Regions from separate parts of the Homo sapiens genome. Here region 2 is linked to region 1. The links come from fine-mapping of genetic effects on plasma protein levels. A gene starts in region 1. The other region holds a variant in brackets. All regions are shown on one strand. Distances are between the middles of the regions.

Region 1 (10,573 bases):
AAAACATAGTGTACATATAAACAGAGTATTATTCAGTTTTAAAAAGGAATGCAATTCTGACACATGCTACAACATGGGTGAGCCTCAAAGACATTATGCCAAATGAAATAAGCTAGGCACAAAAGGATAAGTACTGCATGATTATGTATATGGAGTATTTAGAGTAGTTAAATTCATAGAGACAAAGTAGAATTGTTGTTGCCAGGGGCTGGAGGAAGGAGTTAATCGGAAGTTATCATTTAATGGGTTTCAGTTTGGGAAAATGAAAAAGTTCTGGAGATTGATGGTGATGGTTTTATAACAATGTGAATATAGTCAATGCCACTGAACTGTGCCCTTAAAAATAGTTCAAATGGCCAGGTGCAGTGGCTCATGCCTGTAATCCCAGCACTTTGGGAGGCCGAGGCAGGCAGATCACAAGGTCAGGAGATTGAGACCATCCTGGCTAACACGGTGAAACCCGTCTCTACTAAAAATACAAAAAATTAGCCAGGCATGGTGGCACACGCTTGTAGTCCCAGCTACTCGGGAGGCTGATGCAGGAGAATTGCTTGAACCCGGGAGGCAGAGGTTGCAGCGAGCCAAGATAGCACCACTGTACTCCAGCCTGGGTGACAGAGGGAGACTCTGTCTCAAAAAAAAAAAAAAAAAAAGTTCAAATGGCAAAGTTTCTGTTATTTTTATTTTATCATGTTAAAAGAAAAGACTTCCTCTGGTTAAATCAGAGAACCCTGGAACACTAGGGAATGGAATTCTTTACTTTTTAGCAATGTTATAATAAATTCCATAACATAGACCAGGTATTCCATAGGTAATACTGTTATGAATTTCCTACTTATTAATCTAAATCAACAGCTTTTAAGATAGACTGTAGCATCACGTGGAGGACACACCCTAGAATATCATTATAAAGAGAAAATAGGATAAGGAGACTCTATAGTTGAAAAAAAAAGTGCTCTATCAGGAAGACTCCCTGGTATACAGAAAGCAGAGAAAGGAATATGAAAATTTGGTTAAGGTAATTACCACTCTTAAATGTCAATGAACTCATCTGTAAAATGGGTATAATTTTCACTATTTAGTATTAAGACAATTCATGGAGGTTGATGGGACATAGTAGAAGTCAACAAGTATTAGTTTTTTTCTTTCTTACGTGAGTAGTTTTAAAAAGTAGTCATTAGGCTAGACGGAGAAGGGAAGTTATCTCAACTTTTTGTAACTTATGCTACTCATCTAACAAGCACTGCAAAAATGGTCTTTAAATTGCATTTTATATTTCTTCATTTAAAGAAATTCCCAGCAGGGTGCGGTGGCTCACGCCTGTAATCCCAGCACTTTGGGAGGCCGAGGCGGGTGGATCATAAGGTCAGGTGATAGAGACTATCTTGGCCAACATGGTGAAACCCTGTCTCTACTAAAATACGAAAAATTAGTTGGGCGTTGTGGCATGTGCCTGTAATCCCAGCTACTTGGGAGGCTGAGGCAGGGGAATCGCTTTAACTCAGGAGGCAGGGGTTGCAGTGAGCTGAGATCAAGCCACTGCACTCCAGACAGGCAATAGAGCAAGACTCTGTTTCAAAAAAAAAAAAAAAAAAAAAAAAAAGGAATTCCCAAAACTTTGACTAGAAGTATTCCTATATATATTTCTATTTACCTAATCACCTCTTCCTAGCTACTTTTGCACAGTTGAACTGCTTTTATAAACTCCTTCCTAGCTGTGCTGCTTACAAGCAGGGGCCTGGGCAAATGCTCTGTGCCTCGGTTTCTATGTGTATCAAATGAGATAATAACGATACCAGTCACATTGATTTGTCATGAAAGTTACTGGAAATTACTCATGGGAAGTGTTTACATCAGTATCGGCATGTGGTAAGTACTCAACGAGTATCAGCTATGAGCCATACTATTATTGCTATTACCACCACTGCTATATTCCAGTTCTTCTAAAATAAGGTTTTTGAAGCCTATTTTGGTGTTTGGCAAGTAAGTTTTGTGCCCTACTGGTCTAGCACAGGAATAATACTTTTTTCACATTACCTCCATGGCACTTACCTTGTAGCCACTCTTATAGAATGTTAGTACATTGTTCTGTATATAATGGCCACTTATTTTTTTTCTCTCTTCAATTGCTCACCCCTGAGGGCAAAGATGAGACTATACCTTCTTTCTATTGCTCCTTGTACCTATTTTATTGCTCTTTCGAGGTAAGGCTCCAAACCAGCTTGTTGGGTGAATAAATGAATGAAATAATGACTGCATGTAAGGGGTTCAGATTACCTAATTGAATTGTTGGAACAGCAATGTAGAGTGATAACCCAGGCTAGCAACTGGAGGTCTTAGTGTGATCTCAAGGGACCTTTTTCAAAGCAAGTGACCAAGATAAGAAAAAAGAAAGCAGATGGTTAAAGAGATCTAAAATGTTTTTATTAAACATTCTGCAATCTTTTAATGGCAGGACCCTAACAATGTGCTGGGACATGGGGTCACGTATCAACAAGGAAAAAAGTCAAGAGGAAAAGTCCCTCAGAGTTAGTCTGCTTTATAGAGTTTCTTTTTAGCAAGTCAGTTTTTCCAGTGTAAGGTATGTTCATGGGCACTGATCTTCTTGGAGTGAAGTTAACACAACAATAATGACAACAATAGCAAAACTGAGGTTTCTAGGAGAGAAATTCCTCTTTTCCCCTCTGAGGGGCAACTCATTGACAACTCAATGTTGTCAATTGTATCCCTTATTCTATCATTTATCTGTGAAAGCCAGTAATAGCACCGTCACCTCCTCCACCACCTTCCACCTTGCCCTGTCAGAAGAGTCCTTGCCTTCTCAGTTTCTCAGTCTCTGTGTGGCTTCTTTCCAGCCACACAATGTAACCTCCAACCTCATGTTCTTGACCTTGTTTAGTTCCTACTTCTTTTTGATGGACAAGAATCTCATTCTTCCTAAGGACATTCTGTTACTGGCTTCTTGTGGGGGTGTTCCCATCTTCATTCCTGCCCCCACACCAGTTCTTTTCCATATCTACCATATCTATATTGGTCAAGAAGAGTTTGGCCTAGTTTTTCCTGCTATAGTGTGTGTGGTGGAATGAATAGACTTTCTTTTCCTTAATGTGAAATATTAGAATACTGATTATCATTATTGAAACTGCCCAGTCTTCCCTTTTGAGAATCACCTGTTGAGAATCACTGTTCTCACCATAAACTCAGCAATAAAGGACTCAGTAGATTAAGTGTCAAGAAGCAAAGGTGGGAAAATCCTCCCCACAACTAGTACGGAGTTACCCACAGGTGCTCTTCTTTTCAAATACTTTGCATCTGGGGGGAAGCTTTGGCTTGTTTTACAAGGAAAAGAGGAGACTTCCTTTTTGGTCAGCCAACAATCTCTATCCTTTTATTCCGTGCATATTTCATGTATTTGTTCCCCAGCTCACATGGAGCAATACAGCATGCCAGAGTTTGTGTCTTGGGCCAAGTACTCAGGGATGGAGAGTCCACAAGCTGGGCTATTGAAGAGCTTAGGAGAACCTCAGGAAGGCCTTCAGCCAAGCACCTCCCACTGCTCCATGCTTGCCTTAATATTTTTCTTCATTCCCTCTGAAGGAGAATTGCAGAATAACCATTCATATAAATCCAAGTAAAGAGAATGTATTTTTAGAATATCTTCCCATCCACACATTGAACCTCTCCCATGAATAATGTGTCCGTGTTCTCTTTCTCTCTCCACATATACACAAATACAGTCTCCTGAGCCAACCCAGTAAAGTGTTTGTACCATGTTATTAAGTCTCCGGAATGTATTTGGTTTAAGGTCTGGTTACTGCTATAAAGAGCATGGGAAACCTGATGGTGGGGCGTTGGGATCGCCATGGGACCGCAGGCTAACTGGAGGCATTATGTGAAACTATGCAGTGGGAACATAATTACCTCAATCTCACCCTTTCTACACCATATACTTTGACCTTCCTGGAATGACTAATATCTTCTTTCTGTTTTTCAAAACTGAAGGCCTCCACTGGCATTCTGAACCTATTAGACTCTGACATTACTACAAATTTAATTCACTACGTGACATTTTTTTTCCAGCTGGAAGAATATAGATAAACAGATATAATAATATTAAGTAAAAGAAAACCATAAACATAAGGTTCTAAGGAATATTCTCAAATAAGGGTTTCTTTTAATCTGATCATCATCCACATTTTTTATAGTAACAATTGTAACAACTCTTGGCATATATAGGGCATTTATACTATGTCAAGCACTATGCTAAGCACTCTATTTTATCTAATTTCATTACAATAAAAGTATGAGGTATGAAGCAGGCATCAATAAATTCTGTCAGTATCAGTTTATCTGCAGTCTGGGGATCTGTAACTTGACCAAGGTCAAAGAGCTTGAAATTTCAACTTGGGACCATCAGACTGAAAACCTGCAATCTGAAACACTTTGCTGTGCTGCCTTCCTATTATTTCACCAAACATATGAGCACATAAGAAATTTCCTAGGGTCTTAGCATTAATTTTAAGGTTCTCTAAAACTCAAAAAATTACTTTCCTATTTTTTTTGTGGGATGAGAGTTACAAAAAACAGTTGTATATGGCTTGTCTCTTTAGACCTAACAGATACAAATACAGGATGCCCGGATAAATTTGAATTTCAGATGAACAATGAAAACAAATTTTAATATAAATATGTCCTCTGCAGTATTTGGGATGTGATCAAAATTCATTCATTATTTATCTGAAATTCACATTTGAGTGTCCTGCAATTTATCTGCCAATTTTACTCTTAAGTAAAATTAAGCATTTCATTCAGGGACTTTACGTGCTCAAAGCAACAGGTGGAGATAATGCTTCCCTGGGGTTAATTCCAAGCCTGTAGAGAAGCAAAGCCTTCCCATTGCATGAAGTCCCTCCTGGTCTGGCTTCTCCCCAAGTTTCTGGGTATGAAGTTGACCAGAAGCCATGCTCCCTCTTTTTCATGGAGGCTACATTTTATACCACAGTGAGAGGTTGGCATATTCTGACCCTGTCCACTCTCTTTTTTGGGGCAATGTGGGTAGGGCTTACTCTGAAGAAGGACCATGTTCATGCACCTTATTTTTAATCATCAATAATTAATAACTATAATTGTACTAACAATTAACAGAATTCATAGCAATAATCCATGCATCAGTGATGTTAGAAATGGTGTCAATCCACATAACTGTTTTAGTTGTACAGTTGCTGTAACCATAGCTATAGAGTGTGGTGTTTGTTTTGCTAGGTCAATTGCTCCTTCCTTTCCCATGAACTTAGGTGACTTTATTTTCCTCCCTCTTAGCATGTCCCATGCAATGGGCATGCTGTTGTCTGTTTCAGTTCAGGGGTTCTTAAATCACTTGTTCTGGATTCATTCTCCTTTACCAGACCTCTACATTCTGGTTTTGTTTCCAACTTAAAAGCTATTGTAAGGTATTCAAACAGCAGCTCTTTGAATAAACATATTATCAATAGCATATCCTGAGGCTTGATTTTAATGGAAACATCTTGTTTCTGGAATACAATGGCTCGTTTCTACTTAAGATACCCTCTCAGCAGTTGTCTAACAGCTCCTTTCATGACCAGCCACTCTCACTCACCCCCTCACCTTCCCTGCTGCAGAAGACTTCTTGTCTAATATGAGACAAAAAGATCCTGCAGTAGTGTTCCCACTGTCCTAACAGCACAGAGGAGCAGGAAGCCAGTGACAGGGCACACACGTTAAGTGCCGTGGCTTGACAAAATGACTACTGGGACACGCAAGTGGCAGAAGTCACCGATGTGCTGCTGCAGTCCCCGGTGAGAGTCTAGCGGATGAACTCAGAGCACCAACACATGCACTCTCACCCCTTTGAGCAGACACATTCCGAAGCCTCAACTTTCAACTCTCAACATCCAAATGCAACTTACAAAGGAAAACTCTTTATTTCAAGTTTCCGAACTGACCTAGCCCAGGTGAAACTCTCAAGGCACTGGGGAGAGGAAAGAGGCGGAGAGAGAGAGAAGGACGAGTGTGGCACAGCCCGCGGGGGCGCAGGTGCCCCAGCAGGGTGGCAATGGCAGGGACACTGTACCTCGGCCGCAGGCGGCAGGCGTCCCAGAGCCACGCGGGGTTCGCTCGTCTCAGGCGGGTCTTGCCTGCCAACCGCTGAGCTCCCTTCAATGTCAAAAGGAAAAGCGTTGTCGTCCCCGGACGCGGCGCGGGAGCAGGCAGCGCTCCAGAGGAGCCACAGAGGCAGAACCGAGCGCCAGGCTGAGCTCAAAGCCATTTCTCCGCTGACATCCAGTAGTGCTCTTCCAGGGCTCGGGCGCTGTGGGTCTCCGTAGGTCTCCCGCGTGGTGCGGCGGTGCCTCGCTTATTTTCCCTCCTCTCCGTGTGCAGTATCCCGAGGTGGCTGCGCAACCAGCAGCTTAGGAAATAAAGGGAAAGTGCGAGAGTAAGGGAGAGTTCCAGCCTCTCTCTCCCTCTCTCTCTCTCCCCTTCTCCCCCTCTCTCTCCCTCTCCCTCTCCCTCTTTCACTTTTTCTCCTTCCCGCAGAGGTTCTGGCTCAAGAACCTACAGATGGACGGAGCTTACAGTACGGCATCAAAAGGCAGACGGATTGGGGTGAGCCCCGCCAGCGCTAGGCCACCTCCTCTCCCTGGCCGTTCGGGACTGGGGACTGCGCTGTCCTGGCTTCCTTCTCACATTCATTCTCACCACTCCCTTTTTACCTTCTACTCCCAGGCCCTCCCACTCTAAGCTGGCTTTTCAGACACTGAGGTCCGCCTTTCCCTGCGGTCTTCCCTCCCCTCTCAGTTTGGAGCCCCTCCAAGGGCTCCAGAAGAATATTCAGCTTTTGTGACGCTTCCTCACCACTCTTATTTATGTAGTCAAGGTACCGGATGTCTTATCTATATTTACATAGATATTTTATGTGGCCCCCGCTAGTTTGCAGGAAAGTGGGTGGAAAAGGGATTCCAGGGCAGGAACCAAAGGTAGATGATCTCTGAAGGCAGAGGGTCAGGGTGCCCACTTTCTTGAGCAAGGTTTCTCGGGTTTTTTCTGGGGGATAGACTGTTGCACTCTTTGTGCTAATATCTTCTCTTCAGATTCACTGGCCACCCCTCTTCCTCCCTCCAGTCCTCACCCAGAGGGCTTGGGAGAAGAATATCTTTCACTGCAGCGCTGGAAAATGACTTCATTACCCAAATGCATGAACTTTTATTTACAAAGACCATCTTGTTTTCATCCTAAAGAGGTGCTTTGTAAGGGGCCCGGAACAAGGCTTGCAGTGTATGAGCCTGTCAAGTATACTGCCTACAGCCCCGGCCTCTTCCTCTTGGCCTGTAATCTCATGCCTACTACATCTGTCTGAATCATGTAACCTTTCCAAGACTTCAGGGTGAAGTTGGGCTACAGCTATGTCAGGGGTGCCCCTGTGGATGGGATAGTGTCTGCAACAGCTGATAGGTACCTTTGTTTACATTGGCTTCATAACGAGCTCTAAACATTTCCACAAGATCCAACCATGGTTTAAAAATGGTCAGATGAGACAACCATAAAATGACACCCAGGTAAGCTTCCAGGTGAAATAAAGCATTTTTGTATAACCTAATCATAAAATAAATAAATAAAGCCTTTCCATAAAACCTAATCATTAGCTCCATTTCATAGAACAAAAGTCATTTTATCTAAGTGTAAGCAAAACCATTTATTTTGCACCTAACATGTGCCAGATACTTGGCATATGCTATTTGTAAACCTCAGCATTCCTGCAAAGTAGTACCATTATTTTCCTTTTACAGAAGAAGAAAGTGAGGTTCAGAGAGACTAGGACATTTGCCCAAGGTCGCACAGCTGGTGGAAAGCAGAGATGGGGTTTGGATCCAGGCCTCACTGATTCCAAAGCTCTCTTTTACATCTGTATACACGACACTGCAACTTTAAAATAAAGAGTATGAATTCAGAGGTGAAGGAAATGGACACTTTTATTTTTTGAGTGCCTCCCATGTGCAAAAAAATCACATAAATTGTCTCATTTAGGGCTGGGCGTGGTGGCTCATGCCTGTAATCCCAGCACTTTGGGAGGCCAAGGTGGGTGGATCATGAGGTCAGGAGTTCGATACCAGCCTGGCCAACATGGTGAAACCCCGTCTCTACTAAAAATACAAAATTTAGCCAGGCATGGTGGGAGGCGCCTGTAGTCCCAGCTACTCGGGAGGCTGAGGCAGGAGAATTGCTTGAACCCGGGAGGTGGAGGTTGCAGTGAGCAGAGATTTTACCACTGACTCCAGCCTGGGTGACAGAGAAAGACTCCAGCTCAAAAAAAAAAAAAAAAAAAAAAAAAAAAATTGTCTCATTTAATTTCATCTTTATGATAATCTCATGAAGTAGGGATTGTCATACACATTTGGCCATGGGTAAGTGGTAAAATTACTACTATAGCCCAGGTAAATCTGATGGTAAGATCTTTGATTTTAAATGATAAAATTGTATGATACAAAAGAACCAAAGCCAAAGGAAGCAAAAATAATTCCTATAGGTTTTAAAGTGATATTTTGATTTTAAAATATTAAAATAGTATTGCAAGGGACTATTAAGCTAAATTATGATACTCTTCTTTTACATAGACTTGTTAACCTACTAAATTAAGTGGGAGAAGTTAAAAACATGTTTGGTTTAGTTGAGAGACTGATATTGGGAAAAAAGATAGCCAGACTCTGAGACAAAACAGATTATGCTCAGTTATACTGACCCAGTCACCCTTTAAAAGAACATTAAATAATAATAATATTAATTATATATGATGTATATTAAATATTCTGACTTCAGATACAGATCTCTTCAGCTCACCAAAACTCATATATTTGTTTTCTGAAGGATTTCATCTTGTTCTTTACTAGCTGCCAATTAATCACACACTTTTTAATTTAATCTGGGCCCTCTTCTGTCTGCCTGCCCAGTGCTGGTAGGAGTGTATTCGTCCAAGACCTATGGACTTCTTATTTTTGGTTAAATATGTGCTCCCAGCTCTTCCTCTTCATCTTCTTTCTGTGGGTACTATTATTGTTTTTGAGACAAAATGGCATAATATGCAGGGGGATGGGTTTTGTATAAAATAAAACAGGGTTCAAATCCTGGGTCTGCATGTAGTACTTTTGGGAGCTTGGCATGTAACTTAGTCCCTCTGAAAGTTTCCTTCCCTGTAAAATGGGCATAATGATGCCTTTTTGTCATAGGCATTTCAACTAGAGCAATTCCATCTTGAATAGGGGCTGGGTAAAATAGGACTGAGACCTACTGGGCTGCGTTTGGAGGAGGTTAGGCATTCTAACTCACTGGATGAGACAGGAGATCAGCATAAGATACAGGTCACAAAGACCTTGCTGATAAAACAGCATGCGGTAAAGAAGGCAGTCAAATCCCAACAAAACCAAGGTGGTGACCTTGGTCGGACTCACTGCTCATTATACGTGAATTATATTGCGCTAACATGCTAAAATACACTCCCACCAGCACCATGACAGCTTATAAATGCCATGGCAACATCAGGGAGTTACCCTATATGGTCTAAAAAAGGGAGGAACCCTTAGGTTCCCAGAAATTGCCGACTCCTTTCCCAGGAAACTCATGAATAATCCACACCCTGTTTAGCATATAATCAAGAAATAACCATAAAGATAGGCAATCAGCAGCCCTTGAGGCTGCTCTGCCTGTGGAGTAGCCATTCTTTTATTCCTTTACTTTCTGAATAAACTTGGCTTTACTTAACTCTATGGACTCGCCTGGAATTTTTTGTTGCGTGAGATCCAAGAACCTTCTCTTGGGGTCTGGATTGAAACCTCTTTCTGGTAACATTTTCACTGAATTATTATGGGTAGTAAATGAAAGAATATAAATAAACATTAACACAGACTAGCATGTAGTCAGAGCTCAATAAATACTATTTAATTATACAATAAGCCCCCATTTAACATTATCTATATGTTCTTGGAAACTGCAACTTTAAGCAAAACAACATACAATGAAGCCAATTTTACCTTAGGCTAATTGACATAATTAAGATTTATTTAAATTCCTATGACATAGTTCTGGTCACAAAAACATCACTAAACTTCTAAAGAAAGACCAAAATGCTTCTAATGGTAAATATGAAAATAAATGTGAGCTATACGTACATTTCAGAAAGATTAATAGAAACAAGTGTGAGAATTATTTACCCAATGTTTGGTGAATCAGTGAGTGACAGCAGTCATAGTGGTGGTGGGTTAAAGCAAGGAATAAATGTTTTAAAGCAAAAATTATAAGCACCTCCTACCACCATGCAATTCAAAAAAACCCAACAACAAATATGATGGGCTCGCTGAACGCTTCCATGCAGCATCATTTATTGTCATATGCCTGTATGATTATTGTAGACTTCATGAATTTTTATTTGATAACAATTTTTGTTCATTATTCAATCATTTTCCAACCTGCTTTTTCCAACTCAGAGTGTTGGGTGGCTGGAGCCCATACTGGCAGCTCAGAGTTCAAGCTGGGGACCCTGGACAGAAGGCCATTCCATTGCCGG
Region 2 (10,573 bases), 110 kb before region 1:
AATACTGCATTAGATCATGTTCTAAGAGTAATACAATAATTGAAGAAATCTGTGATTACATCTATGCGATGCTAATTTCAGGAGGTCCTGAGGACTGACTGCAGAGGGCCTGAAGGTACATGAATGTGTGTACCTGTGCCTGTCCCTGTGTGTAAAAGTAGCAAGTAAGGGTGCGTACACTGTTACTAGACCTCTCCTGGATGTTGCCAGCCCAGTACATTGCTAGGAACAAACAGCTACTTAACAAAAAGCCTTACCTGGATTGTAAGATTTCTGGAGGAGCTCCTCCAATGTATATATCTGTAAAAGGTATTTTCATCTTTTCATTATCCATGCTCTTGACATGCCTTCTGTCAACTACCAAGATCATTTTCTTATCATTGTGGTAAATGATTGAGATCTGGGAGAGATAATATATAGTAAGCCTTGATTAACTATTTAATATTCAGTTCTTTGATGACTTCTATATATTTTAATTCTCCTGGTATACTAGCTGTTCTTCCATGCCTTTGTGCTTGTTTGTTCACAAAATGGGGAATAGATAGATTTTCTTTTCTCACAGACTTGAAAACTCTTGCTTCTACAAGCAGCAGTTCACACTTTCTGGGAAAGGAGGTCTGTATGAAGAGGAGCCAGCCCAAGAAAAATTTTGCGATTAGACCTATTGTTTCCTCCTGCTCCTTCTGAGAGGATTCAGGAAAGAACTATAAACAGGTGCCACCATTCTCTTTTTTTTTAAAAAAACAACTTTATTCAAGTCTAGTTGACATACAAAGAACTACACATATTTTATGTATACAATTTGATGAGCTTGGACATATGCAAACACTCATATCATCTTACAATCAAGGTAAGAGACATATCACACATTTCCCAGCATTTCCTTGTGTCCCTTTGTGGTGTGTGTGTGTGTGTGAGCATGTGTGTTACGCACACTTAACATGAGATCTATCCTAAATAAATTTTAAATTAGTTTTAACTATAGGCTCCATGCTGTACAGCAGATTTCGAGAACTTACTCACCTAGCACAACTGAAACTGTATACACATTGAACAGCAATTTCTTATTTCCCTATCCCCTAACCCCTGGTGACCCCTATTGTATTCCCAAGCAGGTGCCTTCTGGAATCTAGATTGCATGTTACCAGGTGTAATTTTTTTGGTGACACAGTGAGCAGTTCTAATGAATCTGCAAAAATGCTAGTCAGAGAAATAGTTAAAATATTCTTTTATTGTAAACCATTCTCATGAGGCTATGGACTTTGAACTGAAAAGGGAAATACAGTCTCCTACCCTTCGCATTTTGGTTCAACTTAAAAGATATTATGCCTTGTATACACTTTATTAAGTTGTATATTTAAAATAGTTAATGAAAATGGATGAAGTATATTTTCAGTAGTCTGCACATCTGTTTCAAAACTAAAGGGGATTCTTTGTGAGTTCTCTTTATAAGGAAAACTGTGCTAGTATTTTCTAAATTCTGGATAAGTGGTTTAAAAGGAAATTCTGTATTTACTTATATGTATTCTTGTTAAATTTGGTGGGGCTCAAAGGATAAGCAAAAAAAGGCTGTGTATCTACACTCTGGCTCATTCAACAAATGTATAGAAGTATCCTGTAGGAATACCAATTGAGATATTTAAGATTAATAGAAGCCTTCTGGTTAATTAAGCAATTAAAAGGAATCTTTCAGTGACTTTTAAATTGGAACATCAACAGGAAAAATACATCCAATGTTTTAAAGTAAATGTTTTCCTAGGGTTGAGAAGATGAGGGTCCTTCAGTTGCTCTTTAGATATGAAAGTTCTCAGTTTATTTACCATCCTGCCTGTCTCATTTGACTGCCTGATTAGATCAACAGATCTAAGTATAAAGAACAAAAACAAAACCAACCAAACTACAATGATTTGTACCTCATGGTATTTTGCATCATTAATTTGAGCTTTCTTTAACGTATCTTCAAGATGCACAGGGCCACCGCTGAATCCAAAATCATAGAACACATGTAGGTAACCATTGCGCATTTCCAGTCTGAAAAACATACTCTGAGGAGAGAAAGGAATTGTAAGATAGGAACATCTGTTATGCGAGTAGAGTCAGATTTAGCTGAATTTGAGAAATAAGACTGTATTCTTTATTACTGGAACTATTTGAAGACTAAGAAAGTCTCATGAAATTCTTATGAAATAAAAGTGACAGTGTCTGGGAGTGGTGGCTCACACCTGTAATCCCAGCACTCTGGGAGGCCGAGGCAGGTGGATCACTTGAGGCCAGGAGTTTGAGACCAGCCTGGCCAACATGGCAAAACCTTATCTCTACTAAAAATACAAAAACTAGCCAGGCGTGGTGGTAGGCACCTGTAATCCCAGCTACTCAGGGGGCTGAGGCAAGAGAATCGCTTGAACCCGGGAGGTGGAAGTTACAGTGAGCCGAGATCGTGACACTGCACTCCAGCCTGGGCTACAGAACGAGACTCTGTCTCAAAAAAAAAAAAAAAAAGTGACAACTACTTCCATATCAGCAGCTATTTCTCTTATTAATACATAAAAGTTAATATTTATACACAGTGTAAAAATTCTTCTGTTTTCATTCTACTTTCTGAACTAATGGATGAAGTTTTAAGTCTACATTATTGCCTTTTAAGAAAATCTTGAAAATAGAGTATAGTATACCATGTTTATTCAACTGCCTTGTCTTTAGGAAACTTTTAAAAATTATAACAGGCCAACAGATGTGTCTGCATTTATTTTAGGTGAAAATTAGTAAAATTAAAAAATAATTTCAAGGTATACTGAAAAGAATTCTTCCATATTATCAGCAAATATGGATTTAAAAAAAGAAGGCCATTGCTGTATTGTTTTGAAACACTGGATTTATGTAAATAAATATAGAATTATTATGCACTTGGAACACATGATGTTTAAGAATCAAAGAAATTTTGTAACACTCAAATAATTTACTGGAGTTTTGCTTGTTTCAGAAGATAGTTCATAGATACAAGAAGTCAATGGATTTGAAAAATAAAGCATTGTGGCAAGGTCCCTATTCTATAGGAAGTGATCTCCTGAGTGGAGTTTGTACATTCCTGGGAGTGTGGAAAGCAGCCTACTGGAGTTTAGGAAGAAAATATTTCAACTTCTATTTATACTAATTTAAAAAAACCTGAAATAGAGAAGAAAATATTTCAACATCCATTTATACTCACTAAAAAATCTAAAATAGAGAAAGAAACTAACTTTTAATATTTAACACATGAATTATTGACTCTGGGCCTTCATTTTATCCTTTTGTCAGACTTTCACAAAATTCACATAATATGTGTGGCTTCCCAAGAGGGGTTCCACACTTGAAGAGTTGAAGGTAGCTCCTCATCCATTTCTTTGCTTCTAGCCTATTGCAATTTATTGCAGTTTACGTGTGGCTAGTTATATGGATTTAAGGCTGATATAACCGAAATAATAGAATATTTACACTCATTTTGTATTGAGATGTAGAGTGATGTGAAAACATTTTGAGACACACAGATATTTGCTGGCTACTTCCTACAAATTTCTGAAAATGCTGTTAAGTTTATAGAGGGTTACACATTTTTCTTTGTAACATGAATTATTCTAAATTTGTTGAACTTTATTCGTGATGACAAATGTCTGACAGTAGTATGAATCCTACTAGTTATTTCAAAAAAGAAACATACTGTCACATCAATGTAAGGGTATTATCATAATAATGGATGAGAAAGTAACTTTTTCTCCTTTTTTTTGAGGACGGTTATACTGTGGAGAGATGGTTTTTAAAAAATATGTTTGGGAATTTTTCTATTGTTGCTTTTGTTGATGGGAACAATGTAAATGCAATCCTACAAAAACTCTCCTATCAGCTCTATTAAAACATTTGAGGGAAGAAATTTCTAACCTTTAGAAAAATATTTCAAATAAAGATTTTCAATAGCTTTGAACCCTTTTATTAAAGTTTACAAAATGATACCTGGTTAGCTTACAAGAACTAATATTAGAAAAAAGGAAATACACCAATCAAATCTCAAAGACAACCTTTGCCACTTGGTGAATGTGATTGAAAACTATTTGAGTTAGTAGGCACAGCTAATGATATGGTTCTTTCATTTTTTATTTTTGTGAGG[T/C]GTCTTGTCTAGTTACAACCACCAATAAAATTACTGTTGAAATAAACTGGACTTAGGACAAGACTTTTGAATCACTGTGTCACAAAGAGTTTAAGGATTTTTGAAAATATTTAGCATACTTAATTACATTTTCTCACTAAAACTATTTTCTTTGAGCTGTACAGTAGATAAAGTACTATTAAAAATAATTTTAGTGAGAAAAACATTTCTGTATCATTAATAAATAAGTCAATTTAATCTTCATTTTAAATATATAATCTTTTATTTTATCTTTATATAATTTGTCCTTTATTACAAGCTTTGACTGTTTCATACTATATTTATATCTGTTTATAGTACACATGTATCATTTATAAACAAAGATATATATGTGTGTGTGTGTACATACATATATACTTACATACACACATACATATATACAAAGCATGCAAGCTTTGCTTTAAAATTGATTAGGGCATATGGTTTGGAAAAGTTAGGAGCCCAGTGCAAAATTTCTGCAGACACCCTGCTCATCTAGATCTTGGTTCTAATTTCCTCAAAGTTCTCTTAGTTTATTTATATCCAAAAATGTACTGTGGGGAAATGCATCTCAGGGTTGCTTTTATTTATTGCTGTCATTACTTTCCTGAAGAAGAAAATCCAATTTGACTTTCTAAACTAGAATTTCAGTTTGATGGCATGACACACTAGACCTGGGAAGGTTCCTGGAAACATGAGTAGCAGAAAGTAAAGGAAATAAAGGAGAAGTAGTAGGACTTGTATTTTTACTCACTCCATTGACCATCAGGAGAATAAGGCCGTTGTCAGCTGGTGTTCGAACTTCTATGTCAAAGCGAGTCACCTGACCAAATTTCCCTCTCCTTGTGATGTCTCTCACCACGGCATAACCGGAGCCATCGAAGAAGTAACTGGCAGCCCGACTCTGAGTGAAGGCCAGCTTATCTCTGAAATGGAAACACAACGGTCATTTGAACACTACAGTTTCTGTTATGCTTTTCAAGTGAAGCCCTTTTAACCCATTCTTCTAACATCTTCTGTGGACCTTACAACATTTAAATGAAGTCCTGTTGTCTGCAAGGAAGAGATAAAGAGGTATTTGTAGGTATGTTAAATGGATTGTTTTCTTCTGTATCCTGTGTGCTAAGACAACTGAAGTCTCCAGGGACACCCTAGTCTCTGGAATCCTTAATCAAGGCTGCAAACAAGTTGTTTAACACTTCATACTTGGGCATGCTCATCTATGATAGAGAACAGGTGAAGAGTTTTTTGCAGGTATGACTTATGTAGTTTCAAAACTGGCTTCCCCAAAGAAAAGTTTGAGAACCTGAATATTGACTCATACTTGTTCTATCTGCTGCTCTTGCATGAATATCCAAGTCTTTAGTACTCTTAACTGTCTCTTACCGGGCACATGGCACTGATGTGGAGGGGTCCATATTATAGATGTGCTTAAAGTTGTACAAGCTGATCACATCATTATTCAAAGTGGCCAGTTCCAGGCAGCCAACAAAGCCAGGCAGGTTTAAGCTGGTAGGGAGCTATGCAATAGAAAAAGTAAAACCACTTGTCTCATGGTCATATTTTACTCAGACATCACAGAACAGACAATGCAACTAATAGTAGGTCAAGGAGACCTACCCCTTTGTGGAAATATCTTTCTAGACCCGAGTGTGTTTATGCCAAATCATTTAGATATGGCGTAACTTGTCAGTTGTGCAAATCTTAGCAGAGAAAGTGGGATTTACTGAGCATAGATTATGTGCTGGTCATAGGCTGTACAGTGAATTCATGACAAAAATCAGTCCTTGCGCCAGCTTTGTTAGGTAGGTATTCTTGTTCTCATATAATGAGAGGGAAAATAATTCTCAGATAAATTCCAATTATGTGCCCATAACTAGTAATAATAGTCCTGAAATTGGAACCCTAGATCAACTTCCCATCTTCTTCGACCTTTCCTTTATCCCCCTTCATCAGATTTCATACTCTCTCCGAAGTCTCACCCCCTCTCTCATCCCAGATACTTTATTTCATACCTGTATTAGGTGAGATAACTGAATTTTTGAAACCACCACTGCAAAGCTGAAGATTAGATCTAAACTGTGGTGACACCACAAGCTACGGACCTTCCTGTGGCAGGTGGGGGTAATATTAATTACATATGCATGTATCAGAATGAATGAACTGATCTTCAGGAGTTAGCTATAACTTGAAAGCATTTGACATTATGAAAATATGAGTAGCATAGACCAGATTTACACATCAGGTTTATAGATTCTGGTTCAGAATTCTACTCCCCCATGAACTAAGCTCTTAAAGTGATATCAGCAACCCCCAAGTCATTATAGGTTTATGGATTTATAAAAACAATTACTGTAGATTTGTAATAGGTCAAAATATAGCTGTATGGCTGACCTTGAAGTTGGAAGGCACTCCACCAACATAAAACACTGTGTCCTCAGGGTCCAGGTCCAGCAGAGAGTCATCTCCCGAAAATTCCCCCTTTTTAATGAACTTTTCCTCTGCTGTGCTACTTAGACTCGGGACTGTTAAAAACACCTTTCCATGTTTTCCCACCCTATTGAGATAAATAATTTTCACTTGTTATTATATAATTCATAGAAAATACTTTTTAAATGTCAAAATGTTAATGCTCCCTCATCACAAAATGGGTAATTTTGTGACACTAATAAGCATTTACAAAATACCACAATCAATGAGAAAGAGAAGAAAGACATTCCATTTTGAAGTTAATTCATGGATTGACCAGGTAAAATCTAATAATCAGATCGTGATTTAGAAATGACTTTTTTTTTTCTTTCCTACTAAGGTGTTTGGGAAAGAATATAAGAATAATGGAAGAAAACGGAGCAAGAATAAAGGGAGGAAAATGCTATTTATAACATCCACAGGAAGACTGTGTATGTGTGTGTGTGTGTGCACGCACATGTGCACGTTCAACAGGTTTCTTGTGATATGTGCATATATGCCCTGTGTCATGGATTCACTGTACCTTTCAATCTTGACAATGCTGAAGTAAGCAGGCCAGGAACTGACGGGCTTGGAGTCCAGGGGAATCTCCACATCTTTAGTTCCCAAATTATAGACGTATACCAGATTATCATTTTTGATTGCAAGACCCATATACTCTTTTTTGGCCTGAAATATCAAGAAGTAAGAAGTCATTTAAATAAAATTCATAAGAATGAACATCATCTTTTTTAAAGGACAATCAGAAATCCAAATATTTGGGTATATACAAGTGACTTCTGGCCTGAATTATTATCCGAAGCTCCTGTGAGCAGGCAGTGTCTCTTCCTTTCCAGCCTCCCTGTGGCCACATCAGAGTCTGCTGGCCCCATCTTGCTCAGGCTCGTGGAAATTTGTTGGCTGCCAGGAATGGGCTAATTTTGTGAGGCTAACCCAGGAATATAATACAGCCTGACAGTACCGATCACTATGCATCTCTAAACAGGATTCAGCATCAAACAGAATAGGCTTCTGTCTTTCTGAAAGTCTTTGAGGTGTTTCATTCAGACTCATCAAAGTTAGTAGTGTGATGGTGATAGGAAACAATCCCCACAATATCCCACACAGAGAAGAAATGACTTGTCCTTTAGTCATTCTTTTAATTTTGCCATTAAAATGAGATCTTCTGAGTTACCAGAATGGGCATTGTTTTGGTTTGTTTGCCTAGGTGGCTTTATTTTAGGCAAGAGAAAAAGCAGCTTTCCTTGTAAATATTATTCCCTCCTTTCAAACTCATGTGCTTACGTTTTTGCTTCCGAGGTACAGGATAAACTGATCTGCAGTCTCGGTCAGTTCCGGCCGCTTCACAGGGGGTTTCATGTACAGGCTCAGAGACGTGAAGGCCTTTAAGTCATCCATACTGGTTCTCGAGTGCACTTCCACAGCTGACTGGCCATCAAACATCATGGAGACTTGGATCTGGAGTGACACAACGGTTTCATTAAAAGTGCTTTGCAGAAATGGGCAGAGTGCTTTCCCGTGCTTCCCTCATTCGTGACAGGGGCCTATAAACTCTCTTCACCTCCATACCTGTAGTTATTTACCACATCCTCCCCTAGTTGAAGAGAAGACTTAGGGCAGATTGTGACACAGTAGTTTAAAGTGGGGTGAAAGAAAGCAAAAAAAAAGTGGTGACTAAGTAGATCCAAGAATGAGGATAAATATGAATTCCACCATGAACAGTATACTTGGTTTGGGTGAACTAAACAACTTGCTCAAGTTGTCTGGTCAGTATACAATTCACAAGGCTCATACAATTTATACAAAACTAATTGTTTGGGAGAAGTAGAACTAATTTTGGTTACTAATACAGCTGGGACTTTGTCCCTAGGGTCCTCATAAAAGGGACATGGGGTGAGGCTGTGAGCAACATCCTTGCCCTTGTCTACACAGTTGGGAGGGGTCTGGACTAGCTTTGTAGTCTCAGACCAGGTGGGCTCTACCACTTCCTAACTATGTAACCTTGAGCAAGTCACTTAACCTTCAGTTTCCTCATCTGTGAAATGAGGATAATAAATTTGTTGTGAGCATGAAATACGATAACTATAAAGTGCTTTCCAGTGCCTGGTCCTACCATTATAATAACTGTAATAATGAGTTCATAAGGTGCCTCTTATAATGGCTCACAGAAAGGCATCACAACAAAGCACAATTCAGTAAGTGCATTTCTAAGAGGCCCAATATGATATGCTGAGCTGGTCTGATTCAGGGATAATTTTTAGAGTATTTACAAGTGTATGGATTGTGTATACTTATGTCATTTATCTGAATCTTTCCAAATGATTAGGCATCTTTATATTAATTTATTAATATTGATTTGGCTAATGTGGGTGGTCAGTGAGCTCAAGGCTCTATTTCCAAATGACTGGAGTGCAGCTGTCCTATGTTATCAGTTGAGTAAAAACTAATACTTTTTTTTTTTTTTTTTTTTGAGACACAGTCTCACTGTCACCCAGGCCGGAGTGCAGTAGCACAATGTCAGCTCACTGCAACCTCCATCTCCCAGGTTCAAACAATGCTCGTGCCTCAGCCTCCTGAGTAACTGGGACTACAGGTGTGCGCCACCACGCCCAGCCAATTTTTGTATTTTGGTAGAGACAGGGTTTTGCCATGTTGGCCAGGCTGGTCTCAAACTCCTGGACTCAAGGGATCTGCCCACCTTGGCCTCCCAAAGTGCTGAGATTACAGGCATGAGCCACCGCACCCGGCCAAGACCAATACATCTTAATAAACAAGCAGTGTGGGGGATTAAAGTCTTACATTAATAAGTGAGAGTCTGAGAATAGTGCATGTCTGCATGAAAAGCATCCCACTTGGGGGCACTGAGTGAGCTCCCAACTCCCAAAGGTGGGGCTAAGTCTGTCTTTAGCAAATGGTCTTAGGTGATTAAGGTCCCAAAGTCATACTCTTTATAGAAATAATATTACAAGAAAGCACTCATAAAAACCTAGCTTTTAGAATGCCATTTCTTGATGTACCTTTAGATAAACCTTTTTTGAAAATGTTCACTGGGGCATCTAAATAAGGTAATTTGTCACAAGGGACCATTTATCATCATTTAAAAGTCAGGTCTATTTACCAAGAATAATCTTCTACATTACGAAATAGTTGATTTCTAACTCTTCTTTCTGTCAGTAATTAGGACCAGTAGTCTGCTCAGGCCGATTCTTAACTGAGAAAATAAAACCATATACTTTGGTCATAAAAAGTGAGTCTGGTCTATGAATCAATTAAAAAAATTCAAGAGGTCCAAGAACAAGCTCCACTTTGCCACATTGAAAAGTAATTGCTATGTCAGGAGATGTTCCTACAAATGCCAGCCCTAGTTATCTTCTGCTAAGTTGCTTCTATATGTGTCCCAAAACACATATAGTGTGTTTGTTGAGTTTATTCCTCTTAGCCAGTATGTGATTCCTCAGTTAACCCTGCGGGTGGTCAGTAAAAGCTTCTGCATAATTTGTGTTGTACCAGATAATTTCTTGAAGGGGTAGGACAGATGGGATAGATTATTCCATTATGGTAATTGCACTAAAGCAGCTGTTAAAATAACATAAAATATAAGAACGAATTGAGGCTTTTATTGAGGCTTTACTTCTTTTGCTATATTAGCTTTATTGACTAGTTTAACTCTGTGGTTTTTAAACCTGGCTACACATTAGAATAACCTGGGAGCTTTAAAGAACATACAGGTACTGAGCCCTTTCTCTACAGAGTCTGATCTATTGCTTTCAGGTTGGGACCAGGAATTGGTTTCGTTTTCAGTGTTCCTCACGTGTTTCTAATTAGCAAATGGGGCTGAGAACTACTGAGTTGGAGAATACAGCAGAAAGGTCCAGGCTCTGGAAGCTGCCCAAGCAGTTGGAGCTCAGCTTCGTGTTATTATTACCGCTGACTGACTGATGAGTCTTT

Which allele goes with the higher level. Positions count from the first base shown, and alleles are read on the strand shown. Strength reflects both the effect of a copy and how common the allele is.
For the plasma level of the protein whose gene starts at base 6,703 in region 1, C is the high allele of the variant in region 2 and T is the other (moderate association).

Evidence for each region. PIP is the posterior inclusion probability: the model's chance that the variant is causal. The UK Biobank Pharma Proteomics Project read protein levels with antibody pairs (Olink). The fine-mapping took linkage between variants from a reference panel, not from the people measured, so its PIPs are less certain.
Region 2: its variant is fine-mapped to the plasma level of the LAMA4 protein (UK Biobank, PIP 0.95).

Annotation. Positions count from the first base shown.
Region 1 is chr6:112,247,865-112,258,437 of GRCh38, forward strand. LAMA4 (laminin subunit alpha 4) reads right to left here and starts at 6,703. Exons shown (of 39, transcript NM_001105206.3): 1 at 6,595-6,703; 2 at 6,092-6,427. The coding sequence starts at 6,286. All of the region lies in intron 2 of LAMA4-AS1 (LAMA4 antisense RNA 1), which reads left to right.
Region 2 is chr6:112,134,210-112,144,782 of GRCh38, forward strand. It overlaps LAMA4 (laminin subunit alpha 4), which reads right to left. Exons shown (of 39, transcript NM_001105206.3): 20 at 7,910-8,083; 21 at 7,149-7,294; 22 at 6,551-6,713; 23 at 5,543-5,676; 24 at 4,911-5,082; 25 at 1,914-2,045; 26 at 258-400. The region is part of intron 1 of LOC107986633 (a long non-coding RNA gene); the gene reads left to right. Among named protein-coding and RNA genes, the nearest start is that of FAM229B, 52 kb to the left of the region's middle. RefSeq lists an enhancer at 6,607-7,806. The variant T/C (reference allele first, on the strand shown) is at 4,139.